Regions from separate parts of the Homo sapiens genome. Here all the other regions are linked to region 2. The links come from fine-mapping of genetic effects on gene expression. A gene starts in region 2. Each other region holds a variant in brackets. All regions are shown on one strand. Distances are from middle to middle.

Region 1 (5,111 bases), 73 kb after region 2:
GTATAGCCCTTCCTTGATTTATGACAAATGGCTTCAGCATCTTCACTAGAACAACAAAATTGGCTGGACACAGTGGCTCACACCTGTAATCCCAGCACTTTAGGAGGCCGAGATGGGAGGATCGCATGAGCCCAGGAATTCGAGACCAGCCTGGGCAACATAATGAGATCCCGTTTCTATAAAAAAATAGAACAAAATTTACAACCTACCTACTCTGTCTCTGTCACATTTTTCCAACTAAGAAAGATACAAGCTTCTACTCTAGGAGAACGCCCATGCATGTGTGGGAAAGATTCTATTTCCAGGATAGGGTTCCTTTTATTCATTTTGTGAAGCTGTGTCTCCTGTCAACTCCTGGCCACCATTCTCCTTTTCTCCCCACTTTTTTCCCATTGCTTTCTTCTCCCCTCAACTGGGGACACAATAGGTATATTTCCTCGCCATTCTCTTTTTTCCTCTTGGCTTGTTTCTTTTGGGTTAAATGCAACTTTCAGATAACTGTAAATTGTTTGGGACAAGGAACATACTGCATTTAAAGAACACTACCAGGCCTGTTACAGGAGGATAAAATACATTCTATTCCCTATGCAAACTGATTTTCAACAATGTAATAGATTCATATGCCTTATAATCTTCAATTCTGAATGATAGGAGAAAGAAATCAGCTATTTTTTCTGGCATGCATTATTATTATTATTATTATTATTATTATTAGAGACAGAGTTTCGCTCTTGTCACCCAGGCTGGAGTACAATGGCGCGGTCTTAGCTCACTGCAAATGCTGCCTCCTGGGTTTAAGCGATTCTCCTGCCTCAGCCTTCCAAGTAGCTGGGATTACAGGCGTGTGACACCACGCCCAGCTAATTGTTGTATTTTTAGTAAAGACAGGGTTTCACCATGTTGGCCAGGCTTGTCTCGAACTCCTGACCTCAGATGATCCACTTGCCTCGGTCTCCCAAAATGCTGGGATTACAGGCATGATTACACCGCACCTGTTATATATATATATATATTTTTTTTTTTGGCCACATATATATATATATATATATATTTTTTGAGACGGAGTCTCGCACTGTCGCCGCACCCGGCCATATTTTCAATTTAAGCTGAAATGTTCAAAGTGACCACCAGCCACACCAGATGAGGCATGATATAGGCAGTTAATACAAAAATTACAAAAGGATTTCTGGCTCTGCTCCAAGTGGCCTATATAATCTAAGGAGAAGCCCAACATCCTCTCTCACTTAGGGGTAATCTGGCTTACCACACCTAGGATCTGCTTAACAGAAACCCCAAAGCACAGAGATAGCCATCAAAGTAGGTACAGCCAGGAAAAGGATGTTGTCTGATTGTCTTCTCAGGTGCTCAACATAAATCATGTGTTCAGCCAAATACCCTTATCCTGCCTACAATGCCCAACCCCTTCCAAAAATGCAAAAAACTGACAGAGTTTGAGCCCTTTTTACTCAAAGTGTGGTCCATAGAGGTCAGCTGAGATGTGCAGAATCAGAGGCCCACCCCAGGCCCCCTGAGTTCTGCAGAGCCTGCGTTTCAGCAAGATCTCCAGGTGATACATATGCAAGTTAGTGTATGAGAAGTACCAATTTAAGTGACACATTTGTTAAAGCACATATCAAAAAAGAATCAAGATTTTCTACGAAGTATGAAGATTGGAAAAAACAAAAACAAACAACTCACCTCAGTTATGATGTGTGACGCTGGAAGCAAAGCAGCCCAAATCTCAGTGCAGAGACAGTGGTAATACGAAGAAGATTTCTACACTTAGGAGTTTTCCTAGACAGACTTCAACCAGGACCCACGCCTACTAAACAGACGAGTATCAGTCCAGGAACTTTCCTTCCTGCCTGCTCTTGGGGCAGGAGAAAGAATGAGAGAGGAAACTTGGCAGCCCCCAAAGTAGATCCTGCAGCTACCAGGGAACATTGAGGCTTTCCGAGTAAACTAGCCTCGAGGAAATGTCCCGAGTGAAATTAACAGCTCTCCTATCTCCTTGGGTTCCTTTTTTCTCCACTACTAGCTGATTATGAACCACATTTCTTTCTCGATCACTGGGATTCAAACAAAAGACCTAATGGTTCCAGTCAGCGTGGGATCCTCTTCTGGCATTCCTAGCAAGGGGCTAGAAGAAGGGGGAAAGTTACATGTCAGAGAGATATTTTTGTATCTTTCTCTTTGTGCCGCGGAATTCTGATGACAGCATCTCCAACACAAACAGCAACTTTATTTTCGAAATGGAAGGATAAAAACCAATTCTAGCAAATGGCTTTGCTCTGTGCGTAAACTTCCTGTGCTTTTTTAACCCTGATGTAACTGAGGGTCTCCTCTCACAGGCCCTGCCTTCTAGCACACACAAAAAAACAACCAAGCAGGACTATGACATAATTTGAAAAGGAAGCGAATTAAACCAAAACAAAGAGTTAGGTTTCAATGCAAAGGCCCACCAGAAATCTAAAGAGGACCGAGAAGCTGTATACTTGGAGCATGCTATACTTTTCATGTTATTCTTTCCTAAACCAAAAGT[A/C]AAATAGGAAGTCAAGACTGTGCTAAATAGGCATTTCTCTCTCTCTCTCTCTCTCTCTGTGTGTGTGTGTGTGTGTGTGTGTGTGTGTGTATTTTAAATAGAGACGGGGTCTTGTTATATTGGCCAGGGTGGTCTCGAACTCCTGGCCTCCAGCAATCCTCCCACCTCAGCCTCCCAAAGTGTTGGGATCACAGGCATGAACCACCAAACCTGGCTTTTTTTTTTTTTTTTCTTAGGCAAGATCTCACTTTGTCACCCAGGCTGGAGTTAAATAGGCATTTCATATTCTGAAAACATGATAGATGTCAAAAGAAAAAATATGACATTTACTAAGTGCTTCTAATTCCACTGTTTACTGGCCTTGAAAAGCTTCTTAAGCCAAGCCTTCCCCAACAATAAAATAGTGATAACAATAATACCTTCCTTACAGAGTTGTCATGATAAATTTCATGAGATTCACAAAATACCGATTACTGAATTTGTCTTGCTGTTAAGTTCTGTTTATATTTAAGTCACTATCCTGATTATTCACTGTGTTGTGCAGTACCTAGGACAAATTAGGCATTTTGTAAATATTTATTGAAATGAAATGAACGTTTAAAAAATCTTGAAGTTGTTAAGAAATTCCATTTATCTATTTTTATAAATTTATTTTAATATGGTAAAATATGTATAACATAAAATTAGCCATTTGAAACATTTTAAGAGTTCAAGTCAGTAGCATTAATTACATTCACAATGTTGTGTCACCGTCACTGTTTCTAAGACTTTTTTGTCACCCCAAACAGATACTCTGTAATCATTAAGCAATAACTCCGTCAGGGATTTTTTTTTTCTGTTTAATTTTAAATTTTTATTTCTTGTAGGTACATAGTAGGTGTATATATTTATGGGGTACATGAGATATTTTCATACAGGCACACAATGTGTGGTAATCTCATCAGGGTAAATGGGGTATCCACCACCTCAAACATTTATCCTTTGTATTATAAGCAATCCAATTATACTTTTTTCATTTTATTTATTTATTTATTTATTTTTTTTGAGATGGGGTCTCACTCTAATGCCCAGGCTGGAGTGCAGCAGTATGATCTCAGCTCACTGCAACCTCCACCTCCAGGGTTCAAGCAATCCTCCTGCCTCAGCCTCCCAAGTAGCTGGGATTACAGGTGTGTGCCACCACATGTGACTAATGTGTTTTTGTTATTTTTAAGTGGACAATTAAATTATTTTTGACTACAGTCACATTGTCGTGCTAGCAAATACTAGGTCTTAATTATTTTTTCTAATTATTTTTTGTACCCATGAACCATCCCACTTCCCCCCACCTCCCCAATACTTTTCCCAGCCTCTGGTAACCATTCTTCCACTCTCTATCTCTATGAGTTCAATTGTTTTAATTTTTAGCTCCCACAAATAAGTAAGAACATGTTACGTTTGTGTCTCTGTGCTTGGCTTGTTTCACTTAACATAATTACCTTCAGTTCCATCTGTATTGTTGCAAATGATAGGATCTCATTCTTCTTTTTTTTGAGACAGTCTCGCTCTGTCACCCAGGCTGGAGTGCAGTGGTGCAAGCTCAGCTCACTGCAAGCTCCACCTTCCGAGTTCATGCCATTCTCCTGCCTCAGCCTCCCAAGTAGCTGGGACTACAGGCACCCGCCACCATGTGGGTATTTTTAGTAGAGACGGGGTTTCACTGCGTTAGCCAGGATGGTCTCAATCTCCTGAATTCGTGATCTGCCCACATCGGCCCCCAAAGTGCTGGGATTACAGGCATGAGCCACTGCACCTGGCCAGATCCCATTCTTTTTCATGGCTAAATAGCACTCCACTGTGTATATGTACCACATTTTCTTTATCCATTTGTCTGTTGATGGATACTTGGGTTGCTTCCAAATATTGGCTATTGTGAATACAGCTGCAACAAACATAGCAATGCAGATATCTCTTCAATATACGGATTTCTTTTCTTTTAGATTTATACCTAGGAGTGGGATTGCTGGATCATATGGTATCTCTACTTTTAGTTTTTTGAAAAACCTCCAAACTGTTCTCCATAGTGGATGTACTAATTTATGTTCCCACCAACAGTGTATGAGGGCTTTCTTTTCTCTATCCTCACCAGCATTTATTATTGACTGTCTTTTAGATAAAAGCCAGTTTAACTGGGGTGAGATGATATCTCATTGTAGTTTTGATTTGCATTTCTCTGATGATCAGTGATATTGAGAGCCTTTTCATATACCTGTTTGCCATTTGTACATCTTCTTTTGAGAAATGTCTATTCAAATCTTTCACCCATTTTATACTTAGGCTATTAGATATTTTTCCTATAGAGTTGTTTGAGCTCCTTGTATATTCTGGTTATTTATTCCATGTCAAATGGAGAGTTTACAGATATTTTCTCCCATTCTGTGGGTCGTCTCTTCACTTTGTGGATTGTTTCCTTTGCTGTACAGAAGCTTTTAAATTTGATATGGTCCCATCTGTCCATTTTTGCTTTGGTTGCCTGTGCTTCTGGGGTATTATTCAAGAAATCTTTGCCCAGTCCAATGTCCTGGAGAGT
Region 2 (5,159 bases):
GCCAAGTGTGGTGCTACGTACCTGTAATCCCAGCTACTTGGTAGGCTGAGGCACAAGAATCGCTTGAGCCTGGGAGGCGGAGGGTGCAGTGAGCCGAGATCGTGCCACTGCACTCCAGCCTGGGCGACAAAGACTCCGTCTCAAAAAAAAAAAAAAAAAAAAAAGAAGGAAAAAGAAAAAGCAAGTGTATGTCAAAGTGGCACAGGCGCCAACCTGAAAAAGGTCCCAGTGGTGAAAGCCAGAACAATTTGAGCAGCAAATTAAATACTGATAATATTGGATTATAACCCATATAACAAAACAAATATCCATGAGCCCATACTGATACAAATAACTGAATCAATGAACAGGAGAGAAGGGTCAACTCTTCCCTACAGAAGGGAATTTTAATTAAAAAATGTAGAAGGAAGAAAATAGGGGTTTTGTTTAACCATTAGGAAAAAAAACCCGCTAAACAACATGTTCCACAAATGGATGCTTAAATTAATGAATAAAAGTTTAAGGAAAAATGGCAGTGCAGGTTTCTCTCCCAAGATCTCAAATACAAAGGGAATCTGGCAAACAGATTAACATCATAGGTAATAAGAAGTATCGGCTAGGGCACAGTGGCTCACGCCTGTAATCCCAGCACTTTGGGAGGCCAAGGCAGGAGGATCACTAGAGGTCAGGAGTTCGAGACCAGCCTGGCCAACATGAAACCTGTCTCTACTAAAAATACAAAAAATTATCTGGGCATGGTGGCAGGCGCCTATAATCCCAGCTACTCAGGAGGCTGAGGCAGGAGAATCGCTAGAACCTGGGAGGCAAAGGTTGCAATGAGCTGAGATCGTGCCACTGCACTCCAGTCTGGGCAATAAAGCAAGACTCAGTCTCAAAAAAAAGTATTGACATCATGTACCCAATATGACATACTGAGATGGAAACTTTACTTCTGTGACATTTTTCCCCAAAATGCAGAACATTCATCTAATCATGACACTAAACATCAAGCAAACACAAATTGAGGGGCATTCTACAAATTAACTGACCGGGTCTTCTTCACTAGTGTCAAGGTCCATGAAAAAACAATGAAAGGCTGAGGAACTGTCACAGATCAGAGAAAATTAAGGATATTTAGCAGTTAAATGCAAAGTGAGATCATCGATTGGATCCTGGGCAGAAAAAGGACAGTGGAAAGACAAGTGAAATCCAAATAAAGTCTGTAGTTTAGTTCATTGTATTATAGTAGCATGCCCATGTTATTAGTTTTGGCCCTTGTTATGCATGATATTATGGGAACTCTCTGTACTATTTTTTGCAAATTTTCAGTAACTCTCAAATTATTTCACAATTAAAAGTTATTATAAAATAAATAATAAAATAACCAACATCTTTCAATGTTTATAATGGAAGGGTAATGTTAGACTTAACATGCCATCTTTGTCGTTGAAACCTTTCTCATCAAGATCTCATCAAGATCTATACAATCCAGTCAAAGCTGTACTCTGAAAGCACTGTTTTGTAAAGAATATCAATAAAAAACATCTCTTCCTTACTACTCTGGTGTATTTATTTATGACTAGCTGACATTCAAATGATAAGAGAGCTGTAAGATCCTCCTAAAAACCAAGCTTTAGGGGATATCTCTAGGACTGAGAAGGGAGTAAGAGCACTCAACTATCCACAGAAAATTACAAAAGGGAGTTCAATAATTCTTTAGCAAACCATCCAAAGCTTTAAAGGGATTGACCAATAATTTGTCATTTACCTATTCCCAATTGTCATTGACCAATTCCTATATTGGTCAACCCCTTTAAAATATTAACATCAACAAATGTTTCCTCCACCTATAGTAACTTCTGTGCTCAGTGGGTTTTTATCCTTCCAATATCAACTTTAATTTCATACATTTGGAGAAAGGCCAAGAGTTTTTACCAACCCACACTTAACACACTATGGGACCCAGAATCAGTTTGCACCAGGGCATCATTTTCTGAAAAACCACTTTGAACTGTCAGTTTTAAACTGCATACCCACTTTCAAATGAAACTGCGAAAGGCTAAAAAACTCAGTCGTCTCGTTTGAACGGTTACCGATTTTCTAACAAATATATACACAACGCCCACCAACCTTTCCAGACACACACTCTCAGCGAAACTGGTTTTACAATTTACTCACTCAGCTTAATAGAGCTCGGTCTTAACCAAAGGCTCAGGATCTCAGGATGCGTGCGCTCGGAGGCAGCGCTTTAACAATTAAGGATGTAAATGTTGGGATGAGTCACCCGGACCTTCCAAACAAACTCTAAAGCAGCAGTTTCCACTTAACAAGACCACCAAGCATGTGCACGGTGCGTTCCTAAATCCTACCCAGTTCCTCCACAGGCTGCCTCCTTGCCGCGTCTCTCAATCTCAGTGGGAGTGGCGGGCACTGCCTCTTCCCTCCTGCGCGCCCGGAACCTTTTGAGTGGGCACAGCACGCAGCCCGCGCGCGGCACAACCCCTTCCCCCAACCACACCCGGCGCGCCCGAGCGCTCCCCTCGCGCGGCGGCCGGCGTGGGAGGCGCTGCGGCTGGAGGTCACGATGGGAGCCGGCGGGTGGCCGCCTGGGGAGACCCGGACATCCAGGGGACGAGCTCAGGCAGCGCTGACACGAACTTCCTAAGCCGCGCTTCGGGCTGTGGACCGCCAGAGCTGAACGCAGTGGCCCCTCCCCAGCGCCCCGGGTTTCCCCAGGTCGGGGTTCGCGGGCGGGGGTGAGGCGTGGCCCCGACTGCCGGGCCGCGATAAGCGCCCTGCGACCCGGCTGAAAGCGCACACGTGTCCTGCCGCGCTGAGCCGCCAGCAGGACTGGTACCACCGCCCTCCCTCGGGGCTAGGGTCACCCTGCCGTGACACGCAGGGACAAGCCAAACACTCCCGCCTCCGGGATCGAACGGAATGAACCAGAGTGATTAACTACGAGAATCACCAGGCGCTCATTGGGCTGATCAGTACCTCGTCTGACCTAGCTGGGTTTGGTCGCCGTCACTGGCCGGAGCGCCGAAGCACCGGGGACGCTGACGCACAGGTTGCCCAGTCACAAGCGCTGCTCGCACCCAGAGCAAGTTAAATGGGTGGTTTCTGGTGAATGGGATTCTGAGAAAGTGGATGCTTGCGCCCCAGGGCCTAAAAAAATCAGGCACTGAATCTAACCCAAGGAAGGAAAGGGGAGAAACTTACTGAATGAAAATATTACCATAGTTTAAATGTTATTCTTTACACTCCTGTGACTGACATACTTCTGTGCAATATTCCGATGGTGTGGAAAGGCTAGAAAGTGATTGCGCATGTTCAGGAAACGGGCCATCAGGCTTTGTGAGTGTAGCCATCCCAACATCTACCTGCTGCATCTACCCTAGGAAATTAGTACCTGCATGCAGATATTTTCTGGTTTGCATTTACAAACAAAAATCATAGTATCATTTAAGTTGTTTAAATCAACACTAGGAATAACTATTAATGGTTCACCCAATGCAGGAAAGTTTTAGCTAGGAAGCCTAGATAAGAAAATTGACTATACATAATTTTTTAAAAAGAATTTTAAATATACCATACCGCATGCTTTTTAAAAGAATTTTAAGGTATATATTCATGATGCGCCCAAACATTTGGGTAAAATTATTCTTTTGAATTAATTTCTGTCAGTTTCAAGACCCTTAAAGGCCCATATAGAAATACATGTTAGTCATACTTCATTTTAAGACAAAATTAAGGCCAGCACGGTGGCTCATGCCTGTAATCCCAGCACTTTGGGAGGCTGACGCAGGCAGATCACTTGAGGCCAGGAGTTCGAGACCAGCCTGGCCAACATGGTGAAACCCTGCCTCTACTAAAAATACAAAAGTTAGCTGGGTGTGGTGGCGAGGCTGTAATCCCAGCTACTCGCGAGGCTAAGGAACAAGAAGCGCTTGAACACAGGAGGCAGAGGTTGCAAATGACCCGAGATCCCACCACTGCACTCCAGCCTGGGCCACAGAGTGAGACTCTGTCTCAAGAAAAAAAAAAAAATTAAGATAAAGTTTTCAGACCTGGCCGTTAACGACTGTTTGCAAAAACTGAAAAATCTCCGAAAAATAAATTTTATTTTAATTTTCTTTTTAGCTCACCCAGATAAGTGAAAAGAATAAAATTTTATGATACCAGAAAAAATGAAAACATTTCCAGCAAGATCTGAAGGCACTACAGGAGGAGACTGAACAAAAATGGAGAAAACACACACGAAACTGATATGAAGCACATTTTTAAAAATGGATACTTAGTTGAATATAGCATTCTGTAATTATGCAAAGTAAAAACAAATCAAAACCCTATACATAGAGGCCAGGCACGGTGGCTCACGCCTGTAATCCTAGTACTTTGGGAGGCCGAGGCAGGTGGATCACCTGATATCAGGACTTCAAGAGCAGCCTGGCCAACATGGTGAAACCCTTCTCTACTAAAAATACAAAAATTAGCCGGGCATGGTGGCTCATGCCTGTAATCCCAGCTACCCAGGAGGCTGAGGCAGGAGAATTGCTGGAGCCAGGGAGGCAGAGGCTGCAGTGAGCCAAGATCATGTCACTGCACTCTAGCCTGGGTGACAACGTGAGACTCCATCTCAAAAAAAAAAAAAAAAAAAAAAAACCTATACATAGAAAATTGCTGGGCAAGGAGTGACAGCTCACTCCTGTAATCCCAACACTTTGGGAGGCAGAGGCCAAAGAATTGCTTGAGCCCAGGAGTTCAAGACCAGCCTGGGCAACATACTGAGACCCTATCTCTACAAAAAAAAAATATTTTAAATTACACTGGGTGTGGTGGCTTACACCTGTAATCCCAGCACTTTGGGAGGAGGCCAGAGGATTGCTTGAGCCCAAGAATTCGAGACAAGCCTAGGCAACACAGGGAGCCCCTGTCTCTACAAACAATTTTTTTTTTTAATTTTTTTTTTTTTTATTATACTCTAAGTTTTAGGGTACATGTGCACATTGTGCAGGTTAGTTACATATGTATACATGTGCCATGCTGGTGCGCTGCACCCACTAACGTGTCATCTAGCATTAGGTATATCTCCCAATGCTATCCCTCCCCCCTCCCCCGACCCCACCACAGTCCCCAGAGTGTGATATTCCCCTTCCTGTGTCCAAGTGATCTCATTG
Region 3 (5,159 bases), 56 kb before region 2:
TTCTGATGAGGAAGGTGGCCTGTTATTCTCCAAGCCCCCTAGTGCAGCTTCAGATGACTAAGCTCTTCTTACTTCTTCTACTCCCAAGTTAAAAAAAGAAAAAGACTTCTTCTTTCAATGATCATGTCTTCCAGCCATACATCCCTGTCAACTACCAAATTGTAATCTTTCCTCTTCCTGACATCTTTCTCCCACAATTCCAAACTCTTCCACTTCCTTCATTATTTCCCTTTCTAATAATTCCTATATGTGACATGTACATTTGGGAAAATGTGATCCATCCTTGAAAAATACCCAGCCTGGGAAACATAGTGAGACCTTCTCTCTACAAAAAAATTAAAAAAAAAAAAAAAAACAGCCAGGCGCCCCGGTGCAGTGGCTCACGCCTGTAATCCCAGTGCTTTGGGCGGCCAAAGGGGGTGGATCACCTGAGGTCAGGAGTTTGAGACCAGCCTGGCCAACATGGCGAAACCCCATCTCTACTAAAAATACCAAAAAAATTAGCTGGGTGTGGTGGCGGGCACCTGTAATCCCAGCTACTTGGGAGGCTGAGGGAGGAGAATCGCTTGAACCCGGGAGGTAGAGATTGCAGTGAGCCAAGATTGCACCATTGCACTCCAGCCTGGGAGACAGAGCGAGCGAGACTCTATGTCAAAAAAAAAAAAAAAAGCTAGGCATGCCAGTTACTCAGGAGGCCGAGATGGGAGGACTGCGTAAGCCCCGCAGGTCAAGGCAGCAATGAGCCATGATCATGTCTCTGGACTCCAGCCTGGGCGACAAAGCAAGACCCTGTCTCCAAAAAATAAATAAATAAATAAATAGGAAAATACAATAAATTAAACCAGGCTGCTCTTTACTGTAAGAATGCCTTCCGGCTCGTGCCACTTCCCTGGTCCACCGAGGGCTAAGCATGGTCACGTTCTTTGTCGACTTAATCTCCCCACTTCCAAGTTGCTGCTTAATCTCTACCAAGCCCCTCAAACTTTTCTTGTGAAGGTCATCAGTATTTACTAAAAACAAAATATACTTTTCAGTCCCTTTATTGCTTGCTCTCTCCAACATTTGGATTTTCTGACTGTACTCAAATCTAGAAAAACTCTTTTCTCTGGATATCAGGTCCCAAAGGCTCAGGATTTTCTTCCCTACCTCTGGCTGCTTTTTCTCAATGAATATTGGTAACCCCTATACATATTTTCAAAACATCATGTTGTATATGATCAATATATACAATTTTTATTCATCAATTTAAAAATAAATTTTAAAAAGTACTGGTAATCCTCCGGATCCCATCCTTGGCCCCAACCCCAGATGTAATCAGTCTAACCAATAGCCCCTGCTGCTGGACAGCCCCGTTCCCAGAACAAAGACCTACTCACATGAAGAGCTTCTTCTCTACCACAAAGAGTTCCACGGCTGAAACACTGCTGAAACACTGGTTGGTCGTCAGGAAGAAGAGAACCCCAGCTCTGCCATGAAAAGGGGAACCAAATCACCGCAGTCAACTCAGCATTCTTAGACAGATTTTCTACCCACAAAACTCTTTCCACAAATGACAGTGTATAAAGTTAAGCAGGAAAAAAAGGGAAACTGTTCTGGTTGGAACAGGGAAGCGTGAACCCCATCAAGCCTCTCCCCATCTCTTATGTCTCCACAGTGGTACTCATTTTGAAACTCACAGTCTTGGATTGTTGTGGAATGAATTGCGTCTCCCCCCACCAAAATTCATATGTTGAAGCCCCAACCCCCAATGTGATGGTATTTGAAGATGGGCCCTTTGGAAGGTAATTAGGTTCAGATGAGGTTACAGGATAGGGAGGTGGGGAGAGTGTAATGGGAAGAGCGTCCTAATAGGAAGAGACACCAGAGCTCTTGCTCTGCCACACAAGGAACAGCAAGGAGGCAAGTCTGCAAGCCAGGTAGAGGGCCCTCACCAGAACCCAGCAATGCTGGCATCCTGATCTCAGACTTTCAGACTAGAACTGAGAGAAAATACATTTCTGTTGTTTAAGCCACTTGCTCTATGGTATTTTGGTATGGCAGCCAGGCCAATACATAATTTTAACTAACAAAAATGCCAAGTACCATTCCTAATGTACAAACAGAAAAGTGGTAAGCTAAATAAAGTCTGTAAAGATTAAGAAATTCAATTAGCCACTTTGATTTTAAAGTTGAACAAAGAATGTAAGTCATGTGGAAGCAAAATGAAAGACAGTGAAGGGAACCTTCAATCAACCCCTTATTATATGCATAATCTACATGCACCACACTACCATCAGCAGGGCCGTGACATTATCCTTGACCACGCTAAGACAGCCAGCCCTCTATGAGGTTTCCAGAGTGCTCAGAGGAAACCAAGTGACACTTACTGATAAAGAAAAATCTAATTTGTGTATCGTAATGAAAAGGAACACTATTAGTGCTTGTTTCTCAGTGAAGTAACTAGATTTAAAAAGGAAAATGTTGGCCGGGTGCAGTGGCTCATGCCTGTAATCTCGGCACTATGGGAGGCCGGGTCGGGAGGATCATGAGGTCAGGAGTTCAAGACCAGCCTAACCAACATGGTGAAACCCTGTCTCTACTAAAAATACAAAAATTAGCTGGGCGTGGTGGCAGGTGCCTGTAGTCCCA[G/A]CTACTCAGGAGGCTGAGGCAGGAGAATCGCTTGAACCTGGGACGTGGAGGTTGCAGTGAGCTGAGATCGCGCCACTGCACTCCAGCCTGGGTGACAGAGCGAGACACTGTCTCAAAAAAAAAAAAATTAAAAAATAAATAAATAAAAAGGAAAATGCTAAGTTAATCTACACTTTGATACAAATATGCATTTTATGAAAGCATGCCAACATCCCTGAAACACCATAACAAAACAATATAATTGACAGTAAGGGTGTGAGTTGAAACTGAAAAAGAGGTAAGTGACACATCATTTAAATGGCGTAAAAACAAGAGAACATTTTAAAAAATGCAAACCCAAGTGAACAACACAATTACATTAAAAGAAAAAAAAGAGTCCATAGATACCTAAAGAACAAAGATCTAAGGGAACAGGCTAGGGTCTTTTTTGTTTTATTTTATTTTTAGAGACAGAGCTGCCCTCGGTCACCCAGGCTAGAGTATAGTGGCATGATCATAAACTCACTGCAACTGAGTTGAACTCCTGGCCTCAAGCAATCCTCCCAGCTTGGCCTCCCAAAGTGCTGCAGTTACAAATGTAAGCCACGGTGCCCAGCCAGAGCAGTTTTAAAAGTATGTACATATAATTAAAATGAGTGAAAAATAGCCAGGCCTGGTAGACATGCAGTTATCTCACTTTCTGTACACAAATAAACCTAATATCAAGTAAAAAGCTAATTTCAGAACATGGAACATAGCAAAGATTCAATTCAATTTGTTGTCTTAAATCTATCAGTACAGTAATGTCCATAATGATTCTGAAAAAGTAGACAATGGAAACGTTCCTTCTAAATACTAAGATGATTTATTTTAAACACAGTTTTTTCTTATTAAGGAAGTTAATTCATTCTAATTCTTTCAAGGTGGTAATCCACATCTGTTATATCTACTTATTGGTCTGAATATTTTTTATTTTGATTTTTTAAATTATAAATTGGCATATTATGGTTGTATATATTTGTGGGGTACCAAGTTATATAATTCATGAATCATAAGTGTGAAATAATTAAATCAAGCTAATTAACACATCCATCGTCTCAAACATTTATTTTTTGTGGTAAAAGTATCTTAAATTTTAGCAATTCTGAAATTTACATTATTATTTACTGTGTTCACCACATTGTGCAATGTATCTCCAAAGAAAAATCCTTATTCCTCCTGTGTAACTGAGGTTTTGTACCCTTTGACCATCATCTCTCCATTCCCCACACACCTCTAGCCTCTGGCAACCACCATTCTACTGTCTCTTTCAGTTCCATTGTTTCAGATTCCACATTAAGTGAGATTATGTGACATTTCTGTGCTTAGCTTTCTGCGTTTGGCTTATTTCACTTGGCATAATATTCTCCAATTACATCCATGTTGTTGCAAATGACAAAATTTCTTTTGTTTTTCCACTGTGTATATATACCACATTTTCTTTATCAAATCAGACCCTTCGGGTGATTCCGTATCTTGGCTATTGTGAACAATGCTGCAATAAATATGAGGGTGCAGAAATTTCTTCAATAAACTGATTTCACATCTTTGGGGTAAATATCTAGAAGTGAGATGACTGGATCTGAATACTGTTTTTAAAGTATACCTTTTCCCTTAATACACACTAATTTGTTTAGCTATCACCACAACTCTGTAAAGCAGTTATTCCAGAGGTAGCTATTAATTCAAAGATGCTTATACTCTACATATGATTAAAACCCAGTTTCTCAGTTACACGGGTTAGAGAAAGAGCAGAGAGTGCTTTCCTCTCTCAGAGAATTCATCCCCAAAGAAGAGAACTAAACCACTGGCCTCGAGCAGTTTTAAATTATGAAGTACTAATATTCACCCCTGAACAAAACTTTGAGAACCTGTTTCCAGAGATGATGCTGAAACATTTTTTCCTCATCAATAAATCACTAATCATCCCAGGAGGGATTAAATCATATACACAGGCCACTTTAACATAGTCCAAATGCTTATTTAAAAAATGATACTGGGGTCAACGAGAAGCAGTGGGAGGAAGAACATCAGGAAAAATAGCTAATGCATACTGGGCTTAACACCAAAGTGATGGATTGATAGGTGTAGCAAACCACCATGGCACACGTTTAACTATGTAGCAAACCTGCACATCCTGCACATGTACCCTAGAGCTTTGGGGGAAAAAAAAAAGATAGCAAGCTTAAGTCACAAATACAAATTATGAGCCCAGGAGTTCAAAGCTGCAGTGAGCTATGACTGCACTACTGCACACCAGCCTGGGCAATATTGTGAGATTCTGTTTCAAAAACAAACAAATTAAAATAAGATTAATGCCCTATTTCTCCAGAAAACATCTGAAGAAACACCTAAAGTTCTTCTTTATTTCTCTGGATTTTTCTACCAAGAGCTTTAATGGCCAGATTTCCAGTCCTCTTCAAAGTTCCAGTTGAGGACCAGGTTACTCCATGTCCTCTCCAAATGCTTCCTGCTGCACAATATAAAAGGCCCACTGCCTTTAGATCCTGTGA
Region 4 (5,159 bases), 82 kb after region 2:
ATTTGGTTATCAATAACTTTCTGTGGGTTTTGGAAGTTCTGTGTTATTCCTTTGGATAAACTTTCTATCCCTATCTCTTTCTCTAGCTCCTTTTTAAGGCCAATAACTCTTAGGTTTGCCCCTTTAAGGCTAATTTCTAGATCTTCTAGGCATACTTTATATTTTTTTATTCTTTTGTTTCCTCTGACTGTATATTTTCAAGTAGCCTGTCTTCAAGCTCACTGATGCTTTCTTCTGTTTTGATTTATTCTGCTGGTGAAAGACTGATGCATTCTTCACCATGTCAATTCCATTTTTCAACTCCAAAATTTCTGCTAGATTCTTTCTAATTATTTCAATTTCTTTGTTAAACTTATCTGACAGAATTCTAAATTCCTTTTCTGTGTTATCTTGAATTTCTTTGCATTCCCCCAAACAGCTATTTTGAATTATCTGTCTGAAAGGTCATATATCTCTGCTTCTCCAGGATTGTTCCCTGTTCCCTTATTTAGTTCATTTGGTGAGGTCATGTTTTCCTGGAAGGTCTTGATGCTTGTGGATGTTCATTGGCGTTTGGGCATTGAAGAGTCAGATATCTATGGTAGTCTCTGCACTCTTTCCAGGCATTTAAAAAGACTTGGGTGTTGAGATCTAAGACATATCTACATTAGGGGGCATCTCAAGCCCAGTAACACTATGGTTCTTCCAGACTCATAGAGGTACTGCCTTGATAATCTTGAATAATATTTGGAATAATTCTCTGGATTACCAGGCAGATTCTTGTTTCTTTCCTTACTTTCTTCCAAGCAAATGGAGTCTGTCTTTCTGTGATGAGCTGTCTGGAGCTGGGGGTGGGGTGACACAAGCACCCCTGTGGCCACCACCACTGGGACTGAGTTGGGACAGACCTGAAGCTGGCACAGCACTGAGTCTCACCCAAGGCCTGTTGTAACCAGTACCTGGCTACTGCCTATGTTCACTCGAGGCCCTAGGGCTCTGCAATCAGCAGGTGGTAAAGCCAGCGAGATTTGTGTCCTTCTCTTCAGGGCAGCAAGTTCCCCTAGACCCTATTCTTTTCCAGAGATGCCATCCATGAACTAGGGACTAGAGTCAAAAATCTTAGTAATCTACCTGGTGCTCTATTCTACCACAGCTGAGCTAGCACACAAGTTATGTGACACAGTTATTTCTACGCTTTCCTCACCTTTCTACAGGCAGAGGAAACTCACCCATGGCCATCACCTCCACAGGCCCAAGGGGAGTGCTGCCGGGCTACCACCGAGGTTCACTAAGGCCCAAGGGCTCTTCAGTCAGCTTATGCTGAAGGCTGCCAGGTCTGGGACTCACTCTTCAGGGAAATGGTCCACCTTCTGGCCCAGGGAAGGCTTAGAAATTCCATCTAAGAGCCAAGGCCTCTAATTAGGGGCCCCAAGAGCCCACTTGTTACTCTACCCCACTGTTGCTGAGCTGGTACCTAAGGTGCAAGATCAAGTCCTCTTTACTTTTCCCTCAGCTTTTTTCAAGCAAAAGGAGTCTCTCACCATAGCCACCATAGCTGGGACTGTGCTGGTTCACATCTAAAGCCAGCATATCTCTGAGTCTTACCCAAGGCCCATGGCAAGTACTGCCTGGGTGCTGCTGCTGATTATTCAGGGCCCAAGGTCTCTTTAATCAGCAGGTGATGATTCCTCCCAGGATAGGTCCTTCCTTTCAAGGCAGTGGATTCCCTTCTGGCCTAAGGTATGTCTAGAAATACTGTCTGGGAACTAGGGCCTGGAATGGGGGCCTAATGACCCTGACTAGTGCCCTATCCTACTGCGGCTGAGTTGGTATCCAAGTTGCAAGACAAATTCCTCTTTACTCTTTCCTCTCCTCTCCTCAAGCAGAAGTAAGGCTTCTCCTTTGCAGCTGAGGGCTGTGCTGCCTGGTGTTTTGGGAGGGGTAGTGCAAGCACTCCTGTAGTTGCCCTGGCTGGTGTCTCAGTAGGTCACATGTCCCTCATGTCCACTGGCTACACGCCCAACTCAGCACTAAGACTTGTGTAGGAGTTGCAGTCCTTATTGCCTAAACTGCCTTTCAAGTTTATTTAGGGCCCCAGAGCATTTTAGGTCATAATGATGAGACTTGCTGGAACTCAAGTTCTGACTGTTGGGATGGGCCATTCCCCTCTGGCTAGGGCTAGTCTCAGTGCTCCCTCAATGGGCAGGCATCATTTGAGTTCAGCCCAGTTTTGCTTTCTGTTGTGACAGGGCAGCTTTGAGTTCAATGCCTCTCACAATCACTGCACTGTCCCTCTCCCAAGTGCACAGATTCTCTCTCTGCACCTA[C/T]GGCCATCGCCAGAGGATAGGGGTGGGGTGCCATCAGCAATTCAAGACTGTCTTTCTTGCCCTCTTCAGTGCCTCTGTCAGCAATATGAAGTTAAAACCAGGCACTGTGAGTGCTCACCTGATTTTTCATTCTTAGGAAGGTGCTTTATTTTATATTATTTCTTTCATGACTGCCTTGCCTGAAGAAAGATGCTTTTTATGTATAGATAGTTATTAAATTTGGTGTTCCTCTCTGGGGACAATCAGTGGAGCCTTCTATTCACCCATATTGCTCTGCCCTCTCTCTCTGATTTTTTTTTTTGTTTTTTAAAAAATGGGGTTTCACTCTGTTGTCCATGCTAAAGTGCTGTGGCATTATCACAGCTCACTGCAGCTTCAACCTCCGGAGCTCAAGCACACCTCAGCCTCCCAAGTAGCAGGGACCACAGGTTTGCACCACCATGCCTGGCTAGTTTTTTAAATGTTTGACATTTTTTATACAGATGGGGTCTCATGTTGGCCAGGCTGGTCCCAAACTCCTGGGCTAAAGCAATCTTTCCACCTCAGCTTCCCAAAGTGCTGATATTACAGGCATGAGCCAATGCACCTGGCCAGGGTTTTGTAAATATGAGGATCATTTTTTCATTTGGTAAGACTCCCTCTTTCCTCATGGTAGTATTTGCACTTTAAGTATCCCGGAAGAGAAAGTACAAAATGCCAATAACAACATAGATAACTCTTTAAAATAAACATATTTTAATCACACAACATAAATCTACATACATTTGAAATATGTGTGAGATTATTCTTTTTCCCCCCAGAAATGGGGTTTTGCTATGTTGCTCAGGCTGGTCTCAAACTCCTAGCCTCAAGCAATCCTCCCACCTCAGCTTCCCTAGTAGCTGGGATTACAGGCATGCCCCACTATACCTGGCAGATTATTCTTTATTCCAGGTAGAAACCAAGTTTAGACAAACCTTGGTATGAAATTTCTGCCATTTCTGTGGATATATCTAAACTTCTTTTATTATTTATTTGTTTATTTATTTATTTATTTATTCATTTTTTGAGAGAGAGTCTAGCTCTGTTGCCCAGGCTAGAATGCAGTGGCATGATCTTGGGTCACTGCAACCTCCACTTCCTGGGTTCAAGCGATTCTCCTGCCTTAGCCTCCAAAATAGCTGGGATTACAGACATGCACCACCACACCTAGCTAATTTTTATATTTTTAGTCGAGACGGGGTTTCACCATGTTTACCAGGCTAGTCTCGAATTCCTGACCTCAGGTGATCCACCTGCCTTGGTCTCCCAAAGTGCTGGGATTACAGGCGTGAGCCACTGCACCCGGCCTAGTGATACACTTAAAAGAAGTTCTGATACAGCTATAGAGGTGGTAAGACTTTTATTCTAAGATTTTTTCTAAACAAAATAAAGCTAACCTGCAAATACAGTTTTAAAGATAATTAACACATATTGAAAGTAAATAACTATGTTTCTAAGGATCAGCTAGGCACTGTTCAGGAGAAAAAGGGGTGATTTCTGCCCTCCAGGGTTGGTGTCAAGGTTGAGTTGACAAGACTAACACACATGACCTGAAAAGTGTTGGCTGAATGCCATATTGGTTCAGGCTGTAGGTAATTGGAGAAGGGAGCGCAGTGTGGGATGAGGCAAGTTGTGATATTAGATCCTCACTTTCTACTGATGTAGACTTCATGCCAACTTGGCCAAGATGACCAAGTGAACTCAGCAAAGCTGAGAGAAACTGGGCTCCAGCTCTCATGATTTCCATCTATTCCAGAATAATAAATGTTAGATAAATCCTTCGTTAAGAAGTAACCAAAGACTTTTTTTCCTTTGGGGCAAATCTAAATGATTCCAATTTAGAAAACACATACTTTTTTTTCTGACAGAAGATAACACAAGCTTTAATTTTCAAATTTCCTCCCATGTTTCATGTGAAGGAGTTAAGGTCATGCTGCCCCAAAATATGCTGCTTTGGCATGTTAACTATTTTGAGCTGAAGGCACTTGAGAAAGAGCTGACGCAGGAAGGGCTCTCTGACCTCCCCTTTTCTATTTAAGAATAGGCCATAAAACTTCCCATGAGGAAGGTGCCCTCCTTATACCAGAAAGACAAGAAATCCTTATCACCAGAGACTGGGAATCGACATTGAAATGGATCTGCATAAACAAACTTAATAAATAATCCTTATATCTTACTAGTTTTACCCCCATTCATATATCTCCCAGTCATTTCCCCACAATTTATTACCTCCAGTCCAAACCCCTTTATCTTGTTATTTCTTCATAAATGTATAATTTCTTTGTCAAAAATGTTTAGAAAGATTTCTGCTCTAGTCACTTCTTTAGAGCGTCATGTGAAAGCCCATGTACATGTAAAAATTTAATAAAGCTTGTCTACTTTTCTCCTGTTTATCCATCTTATGTCTGTTTAATTCTTAGTCCCAACCAGAGAATCTGAGAAGGTAGAGGATAATGTGTTTCCTCCTCAACAGATGTAACACGTTATTTTATGTTATTAAATATACTATTAAGACCATTGTAATTCAATATAGAAAGGTAGAAAAGAAAGGAAAGAAGGAAAAACTAGAACCTAAATGCTTATCTCCAAGGGTACGAGTAAATAAAATGCAGCAAATGCATACAATAGAATGTTATGCAACAGTTTGAGATAGAAATACATGTGCTATATTGACAAAGACCTCCAATACATATTAATTGAAAACAGCAAGCTGCTAATTAACACAGGGCATATAAATTCATTGATATTAAAAGACACACACAGACAGACACACATACACACACCTCACAGAACAAAAATATATATTTCTGTATGTATCTAGTATTCATTTAT

Which allele goes with the higher level. Positions count from the first base shown, and alleles are read on the strand shown. Sizes are in standard deviations (SD) of each study's normalised expression. Not every link is listed here.
For the expression in pancreatic islets of the gene that starts at base 2,411 in region 2, allele A in region 3 goes with a lower level than allele G (moderate effect, 0.64 SD a copy in PISA).

Evidence for each region. PIP is the estimated chance that this variant, and not a neighbour inherited with it, causes the effect.
Region 1: its variant is the best candidate, but not a certain one, in a credible set for the expression of ABCG2 in whole blood (INTERVAL, PIP 0.71).
Region 3: its variant is the best candidate, but not a certain one, in a credible set for the expression of ABCG2 in pancreatic islets (PISA, PIP 0.55).
Region 4: its variant is the best candidate, but not a certain one, in a credible set for the expression of ABCG2 in whole blood (INTERVAL, PIP 0.87).

What each region holds. Positions count from the first base shown.
Region 1 is chr4:88,229,296-88,234,406 of GRCh38, forward strand. It overlaps a transcript of ABCG2 not described here. Among named protein-coding and RNA genes, the nearest start is that of PPM1K, 53 kb to the right of the region's middle. The variant A/C (reference allele first, on the strand shown) is at 2,543.
Region 2 is chr4:88,156,229-88,161,387 of GRCh38, forward strand. ABCG2 (ATP binding cassette subfamily G member 2 (JR blood group)) reads right to left here and starts at 2,411. Exons shown (of 16, transcript NM_004827.3): 1 at 2,158-2,411. It overlaps LOC124900867, which reads right to left and starts at 3,328. Exons shown (of 2, transcript XM_047416558.1): 1 at 3,242-3,328; 2 at 2,158-2,854. The coding sequence starts at 3,328. The coding sequence ends at 2,345. RefSeq lists a silencer at 2,478-2,697.
Region 3 is chr4:88,099,854-88,105,012 of GRCh38, forward strand. It overlaps ABCG2 (ATP binding cassette subfamily G member 2 (JR blood group)), which reads right to left. Exons shown (of 16, transcript NM_004827.3): 11 at 1,377-1,466. Among named protein-coding and RNA genes, the nearest start is that of ABCG2, 56 kb to the right of the region's middle. The variant G/A (reference allele first, on the strand shown) is at 2,629.
Region 4 is chr4:88,238,444-88,243,602 of GRCh38, forward strand. No RefSeq gene overlaps it. Among named protein-coding and RNA genes, the nearest start is that of PPM1K, 44 kb to the right of the region's middle. The variant C/T (reference allele first, on the strand shown) is at 2,307.